Linked DNA regions of Homo sapiens. The protein of the gene in region 2 interacts with the protein of the main gene of each other region in a pairwise test. Each region holds a gene or a part of one and is shown on either strand. Other genes may lie near its edges.

The links. The genes of interacting proteins can lie anywhere in the genome.
Region 1: the proteins of PEDS1-UBE2V1 (region 2) and TRHR interact in a two-hybrid assay, tested with the Homo sapiens proteins (one large-scale study listed by BioGRID).

The regions. Positions count from the first base shown.
Region 1 is NC_000008.11:109,089,585-109,093,084, reverse strand, and holds part of TRHR (thyrotropin-releasing hormone receptor), read right to left. Parts: intron 1-3,500. UniProt on the Homo sapiens protein: Receptor for thyrotropin-releasing hormone (TRH). Upon ligand binding, this G-protein-coupled receptor triggers activation of the phosphatidylinositol (IP3)-calcium-protein kinase C (PKC) pathway.
Region 2 is NC_000020.11:50,150,924-50,155,154, forward strand, and holds the start of PEDS1-UBE2V1 (TMEM189-UBE2V1 fusion protein), read right to left. Parts: upstream 2,801-4,231; 5' UTR 2,715-2,800; coding exon 2,594-2,714; intron 393-2,593; exon of another isoform or gene 289-392; intron 1-288. Other genes in the region: PEDS1 (plasmanylethanolamine desaturase 1), read right to left, coding at 2,594-2,714.

The DNA of each region.
Region 1 (3,500 bases), on a different chromosome or scaffold from region 2:
AAACAAACTTAATCCTGATCACTTTCTTTTGCTTTGCCTTGTGCTTTCTCTTTGAGAATATTATTTCCAAAATTGTATGTGGAAAACCAGGAAGCCAAAACTACATATACATTTGACTATAATTGTGTTTAAAAAAAAAAAAGATCCAGTGAAAACATAAGAAAAGCGGTATAACAAAATGATGATGATTTTGGTCTTTGAGAGGTGGGGTCAGGAGGTAAGAGATGGCTTTTGCCTATTCCTAGTTTTCTATATTTTCCATAATACACATGACTGCTTTTATAGCATCATTGTCATTATCACCAATAACAGCAAAAGGCGTGCATTACTTTAAAAAGGAAAGTTGTGCCGGGTGCGGTGGCTCAAGCCTGTAATCCCAGTACTTTGGAAGGCCGAGACTAGCGTATCACCTGAGGTCAGGAGTTCAAGACCAGTCTGGCCAACATGGTGAAACCCTGTCTCTACTAAAAATAGAAAAAAATTAGCCAGGTGTGTTGGCGCACACCTGTAATCCCAGCTACTCAGGGGGCTGAGGCAGAAGAATCTCTAGAATCCTGGGGGCAGAGGTTGCAGTGAGCTGAGATACTGCCACTGCATTCCAGCCTGGGCTACAGAGGGAGACTCTATCTCAAAAATAAATAAATAAATAAATAAAATAAAAATAAATAAATAAATAATAAATAAAAAGGAAAGTTGTTTCTGTTTCTTGGGCTACCAATATTCCTTCTAGATGTTTAATAGTTTCATGGAAACAAAGACCGATATTTTTAAGGCTTGATGAGTCAAGTGAATTCCATAGTAAAAATTCTGCCATTACTCTTAGAGCTTCTATTAAGACTATGTTACATGGTTTCTCTACTTGTTATTGTGTAAGAATTAAGAAAAAAATTATTGAAGCAACTCCATTGATAATAAAACTGGTAGCCTGTTTTATAAATCTATAAAATATTCTGCATATTTCTGCATCCTGTAGAAAGTACATATTTGAATTGAATGTATTTATTGATATTACATTTTACTAAGATGTTCAGGTGTTTCTGTGCTTTCAAAATACCAAAAATCCAATCAATTACATAGAAATACACAGTCAATGATAGAGATATTGTATCTACATAATGTTGAACCCCTGAATTGACTGAACTGAGGGACTCTTGAGGCATTGTGTAGATAGAGCTGAAATGAGACAAATATGATAATTTAAACAATGTCTCCTTTATATTAAAATAACAAACTATAAAAGCAATGTATTTAGTCAGATAATCCGTTTAGTTTACACAATTCCAAGCCATAAGTTTGGGTAATTTATCTTACGGAATTTACCCAACATTTAGATGTTTTCCTAAAATATAATTGAATCTCTGAATAAAAGAAAACAAAGATTTTGGCCTGGATTTTCTGCATAGAGAATGAAAGTTAAAAACAAATAAGGAAGAAACTCACATTTGTCCCTTACATGTAAATGCTCTTTTACTTCCTTTTTAAATGTTTCTCTTTTAGGCTATGCACATTTGAATTTAAGAACTTGATTAGAAAGACCTGACCCAGATGAGTATTTATTAAACTGTAAGTTAAACTTTCCTAAAAGAAAAAAATGCAGAGAAAATATTAAAATTAAAGTCCTTTGGCTATAGAAGGTGGAGGTTTGAACCTTTCAAAGGTTTAAGAAAATAACTATTTTGGAAGAAGAAAAAAGCAGGTCACTAATTTTGTACAAAACTAGCTCCCCTTCACTGTTCTCATTCCCACTGATCGGGGCACCACATTCTTCCAGACTCAGAATCCTGGGGCCATATTGAATTGTCCTTTCTTCATCCTTTATGTCTAATATGTTCACATCACACCCTTTCTTTCTTTGAAACATCTTTCTGGTATACTCTTTACTTTAAATTCTCCTGATAGAGGATCTTACTGCCTCATGCCTGTATCACTACTAACAACTTCCAAAGTGGTCTTTCTTCCACCAATCTCTCTCTCTTCAAATCTGCCTCCCCGACGGCTGTCAGATTTCTCATCCCTGAACACCATTTCATCACTGCTGCTCCCTGCTCATCACTCACATTCTTTGTTGCCTCTGCATTAAGTGCAAATTCCTTTCTTTGCCTGATTGTCTGGATCCTCCACAGCCTTCTCTGTCTCTCTGTCTCTTTCTCTTCTTTCACTTTCACACATCAATCCAGTCTTACTTTTTACCACTCCCACAAATACATCATTCATTTCAGACAACTAAGTCGCTCCATCACATAAGTCCCACTCTATGTGCCCCTTCTTGGCCCCTCTCCAAACCCATGCCATTCTCATCCCAGCCACTATGTCTTGTCCTTTATGCATGGAATACTGTCCTTCTTGACTTTTACTTTTCAAATTATCTTCATCCTTCCAGAGCCATCTCAAATGCCACCTCTTCCATAAAGACTTCTCTGATCCCTGTAGCCCAGTAATTTTCCTTCTTTTCTCTGAACTCACATCCCATCTATAATCAGGGTTGAATTACAAGACACACTACTTAAATACACTCCTATTGGCTTATGTGTCACTCCATGTTTCTCAATTAGGGTGTTATTGGTATTTGCAACAAGGGAACTTCATTCCTTATTCTTGGAGGCTAACTGACAGTGGTGTTAATGTGACAACCCCAAATGCTCAGAATGTATTTCCAAATGCTCTAATTATTTAAAAAAACTCCTTAAAGAAGTTACCACGTCATATACACATTTGTTCAACAAGTAATCTTTGTTAAAGCAGTGAATGTGTATTTTTAAGGAAAAACCTGTAGTTCCCTCACAGTTGCCAAAATATTTTTAAAAATTGAGAAGGAGCCAGTTAATACTCAGTTGTTAATCACCACTCCAATTTAGGCATTTTTCATGAGGTATTTCATGGATCCTTACACTGATCTTGGATATTGCTATTTATCTCATTTAACAGATGACAAAACTAAGGCTCACAGAGTTCTGCTTATCCAAGTTTATAGAGTTTGAATGGAATCCTGGCATTTAAGCCCAAGGTTGTTTGGAGCCAAGTCTTTGGCTTTTTCTTCTATCATACAGCCTCTGTAAGGACAGCTTATCGGTAACAGCTTTGAAATAAGACTGTGAACATGTAACATAATTAGCAAATTAAAGCATATTAATGCTGATAGGTACTAATGACTGTAATGGAAAGAAAGGACATTAGACAAGACAAACAAGTTTTAAAAATGTATAGCAGGAATGCAAATTGGAGTCTAATGAATGAATTTACTCCCTGATCTTCCTTGCTGCAGACATTAACCCATGTTTGGTGTCTAATTGAGATGTACATATTCTTTGCTTTCTTATTATATTTGTCAATGTTTGTCTTGGAAGATAGTCAATAGATCTCTCTAAATTTCCATTAATCAAGTTTTGGGTAATAAATGGCTGAATAAGCCTTATATTAGGTATCACTACTAGATCCAAGGCAAAAGAAATCTAAGAGCTGACAATAGTTGTTTAGGTCTTTCTTCTGTCATCTAGTTATCT
Region 2 (4,231 bases):
GACCTCAAGTGATCCACCCACCTCGGCCTCCCAAAGTGCTAGGATTACGGGTGTGAGCCACCGCGCCCGGCCAGCTCCATTTTTTTCTGTCTTGTTCACCATTCTGCCCCCAGAGCCTAGAACATGGACTAGAACATAGGTGTTCAATATGCACTGAGCCTGGTCTCTCACTTTTTCAGGCCCAGAGAGGTCAAATACTTCCCCAAGATCACACAGTGAGCAGATAGAAGCAGAGAGGCCAGTGGAAAGGAAGTTGGAGAAACCAGTTTGGCAAGTCTCCTCCCCTACCTCCAGGTCTGGAGGAGATAAAGGGCCTTGATTGCAGATTTGGGGCACCAGGCTGTCTGCAGACTCTGATTCAGGCATGGCTGTTCTTCAGAGAGTGAAGGGCACTTGGGGAAACCAGAAATGGACAAATATGCAATTGATCGTGGTGGAGTGGGGAAACAGCAATCCCTGGGGAGGCTCAGAATGCCTGGGAATGATTTGGGCTGTCTGAAAGTAGGTAGGGTTCACAGGAGCAGGCAGAGCTGGACACTAAAGAGGGAGGCCCTTGAATCCTTATCCCCAATTCCCAGGTGGGGAGTTTGAGGACCAGAGAGGTGAGGCGGATCCCCCACAGCAAAGGTCAGACTACTGTTAACAACAGGGAGGCGCCAGGCACAGTGGCTCACGCCTGTAATCCCAGCACTGTGGGAGGCCGAGGTGGGCGGATCACAAGGTCAAGAGATCGAGACCACCCTGGCTAACACAGTGAAACCCCATCTCTACTGAAAATACAGAAAATTAGCCGGGCATGGTGGCGGGCGCCTGTAGTCCCAGCTACTCAGGAGGCTGAGGCAGGAGAATGGCGTGAACCCGGGAGGAGGAGCTTGCAGTGAGCCGAGATCACGCCACTGCACTCCAGCCTGGGCAACAGAGTGAGACTCCATCTCAAAACAAATAAAACAAAACAAAACAAAAAACAACAAAAAAACCCACACAACAACAGGGAGTGCCTACTGAATGCCAGTGGACGATCTCATTTCCACTTCCTAACACGAAGGGGCAGATAAACTTTAACTTGCAAGGAAACCAAGGGGAAACAGAGACGGAAAGTGGCTTGGACCAGGTCATACAGCTGAATAACAGAGTCAGGATGTTAACCCTGGCCTACCCCCAGGAGAGCAGGAGGTTTTAAGTCCATAGGCTGGGTGTCTTGGGTATAGGCCTGAAGAAACCATAGCGGCATGGACCAGGTGCCCAAGTCAGGTGTGAAAAATCACATACAGAGAATGGAGTGGTCTAGGACCCAGTGAGGAAATGCAAATGGTCCGTGGCCATGCCGCCTTTTAAGGAAGAGACGGCATGGAACCCAGGCCAGTGAGGGCAGAAAGCTAAGGTGCTAGTGACCCCAGGCCCACTCCAGGCAAGGGCTGCATGTGGTGCTTGGTGGCTGCCCCACAGAAAAAGGAAGGATGTCAGGATATTTGACAAACAAAGCTTCATTCCATGGTGACACCCAGGTAGAGGTGCCTCCCAGTCACCTGAACCAGGAGTTCTCAAAGGCACTTCCTTAACTCCTGGGGATATAGGGCCCTCCTGAGGCCAAACAGTAAAATTCCTAGGGCTCACGTAGGAGTCACAAAAGTGGGTGTAGGGGGGGTGCTTGCTGGAGCATATACAGTGAGCAAAGCAGGAAGAAGCTAGGGAGAAACCGTGGCCTGAGGGAAAGGGACAGAGAGGGAGAGGTGAACTCCAACTTATGATCTGGTCTGGGGAATATGGGGGTTCCAGTCCCAAGTCCTAAGGAAGGGGCCAATACATGGATGTGAGGGAGGGGCAAGAGCTAGAGTTGGGGCTTATGTACAGGGGAGCTTACAGTGGGGTACATTCAGTCCCCTCACTGCCTGGGATCCAGGAATATGGGGCAAGGACTGATGCTCACCACTGGAGGGTTGGGGAGAGGATATCGGTCTGTAGCCACTGAAGCTATCACTAGGATGGGGTTTTGGGGGAAGGGTGTGGGGGGTACCGTGCAGCTGGAAGCCCCTGAGTTAGGGTTCCCTGGGCAGAGGGGCTGACATTCCCAGGTTAGGGAGGTGAGGTCATTGTTTGCAGCCCAGGGCCTGGGCTAGGGCACAGAGGAGGTACTAGGATGTAGATTCCAGATCTGGGGAACCCAGGATGAGGTGTGACTTTTAGGGGCCTGAGGGCAGTGCTTACAGCTGAAGGGCAGCTTTGGGCTTGGACCGGGTCCTGGGGGGATGAGGGGGTGGGGTTCTAAGTCTAGGAGCACTCTTCACAACCGAGAATGCCCCGGGGCTAGGATTCCGTATCTGCGGGTCCGATGGGAGCTCCGTTTGTCGCCCAGGGAGCTCATGGTAATTTCTTGATCTGGGGAGTGTCTCTGCAGCCAGGAAACCCCGGGGCCAAGGTTCTGGCTTGGGTTCGGAAGGGACACTGGGGTGGGGTCCCCGAACTTGCTATTTGCAAGTTAGACACCCGGGCTGGAGTTCCGCATCTGGGCCCGAGGTTGGGACTCCAGTCTGGGGTCGCTGTCCGCAGCCGGGGCTGGTGACCGCAGGCCTGGAGGGGGGCCCAGAGGTCTTACCTGGCGAGTAGAGCGCAGCCAGCTCGCGGGCCCCGGCGTGCTGCGCGCCCCAGCGGCAACAAGACGCCTCGTCCTCGTCCAGCTCCAGCTGCTGGCCCGGCCAGTTCTCGGCGCCCGCCATGGCCACTCGCCCGATCGGCCCGGTGCGCTCTGCTGGCGGCGGCGGCGGCAGGGCCGCGGAACCGCGGCGAGATCACGCCGCCCAATGACCGCCCAGCGCCGGGCGCGGCGGCGGCGCGGGCGGGGTCCTCGCCCGGCCGCGCGTCACAGCCAATCGGGGCTCGCGCCGGAGCCGCGCAGGCCAATCGGACGTCGCTGAGCCGCAGCCAACCGCCGCGAGCCGGAGGCTGGGACGCAGCTGGACGCAGCTGGGCGCGGAAGCTTGGGGCGGAGGCGCGTGCCCGCCTTCCCAGCTCAGCCCCGGCAGGGCTCCCGGCTCCAGCCCACTGGGAGCTCGCGGCGCGTCGCCGCCCAGCTAGGCTTCGGTTCACGGGCCCATGCAATGGGCCGAGGCAGGGCCCAGAAATGGGCATTTCTTGAGCCGGCAGCGTTAAGCGCCCACTGTGTGCAAGGAACGCGAGGGCAGGGCGCCGGGCTGGGGCCGAGGCCAGGAAGCATTTGGCGGGTGCTCTGTACGATGCTCCCTAGCGAGGCCGATGGAGAGTGGGCTGGTTTATCAAGCCCTACTGTGTGCAGAGGTTTCGGGTGCCATGTGTTCATCAGCTGTGTGCCAGCTCTGTGCTGTGCGCCCAAAGAGGAGAAACGTCGAGCCTGCCCCGCATCCTCCCCAGCTCATGTTCTCCCGGTGGCGAGGACAGTAAACTAATGAAAATGACAACTAGGGTCACTATGAGATTTGCTGAGCGCTTAATATCTGTCAGGTGCTGGACCAAGAGCTAGACGAGCAACATTTATTTGACTCTTAAACACCAATGGTATTGCCTCCTCAGAGAGCCCCACCACCACCACCCTGCTCAAAGGTGCCCCCTCCTCCAGTCACTGTGACATCACCCTGTTTTGTCTTCACAGCGCTTCTGGTGGGGATTGAGCTTGCAGTCCCTGTCTCTCCTATCAGAGAGCAAGCTCCTGAGGGCAGAGAACAGCTTTGTTTACAGCAGGGCCCCCGTGCCAGGATCGGGGCTGGAACATGGTAGAAGCTCAATAAATGCTTGATGAATGAATTAAGGCTCAGCCAGATGCGTCTAATACTTCGGCAGATAAATGACAGCAGCAGGGATTTACCCCAGGTCTAACCGACAACAAAGTATGCAATAATTTCTCATAGAAATTCCATACAGGCAGCCGGGCGCGGTGGCTCACGCCGGTAATCCCAGCACTTTGGGAGGCCAAGGCGGGCGGATCATGAGGTCAGGAGATCGAGACCATCCTGGCTAACACGGTGAAACCCCGTCTCTACTAAAAATACAAAAAATTAGCTGGGCGCGGTGGCGGGCGCCTGTAGTCCCAGCTACTCGGGAGGCTGAGACAGGAGAATGGCGTGAACCCGGGAGGCGGAGCTTGCAGTGAGCCGAGATCGCGCCACTGCACTCCAGCCTGGGCGACAGAGGGAGACTCCGTCTCAAAAAAAAAAAAAAAAAATTCCATACAGGCTGGACGCGGTGGCTCAGGCCTGTAATC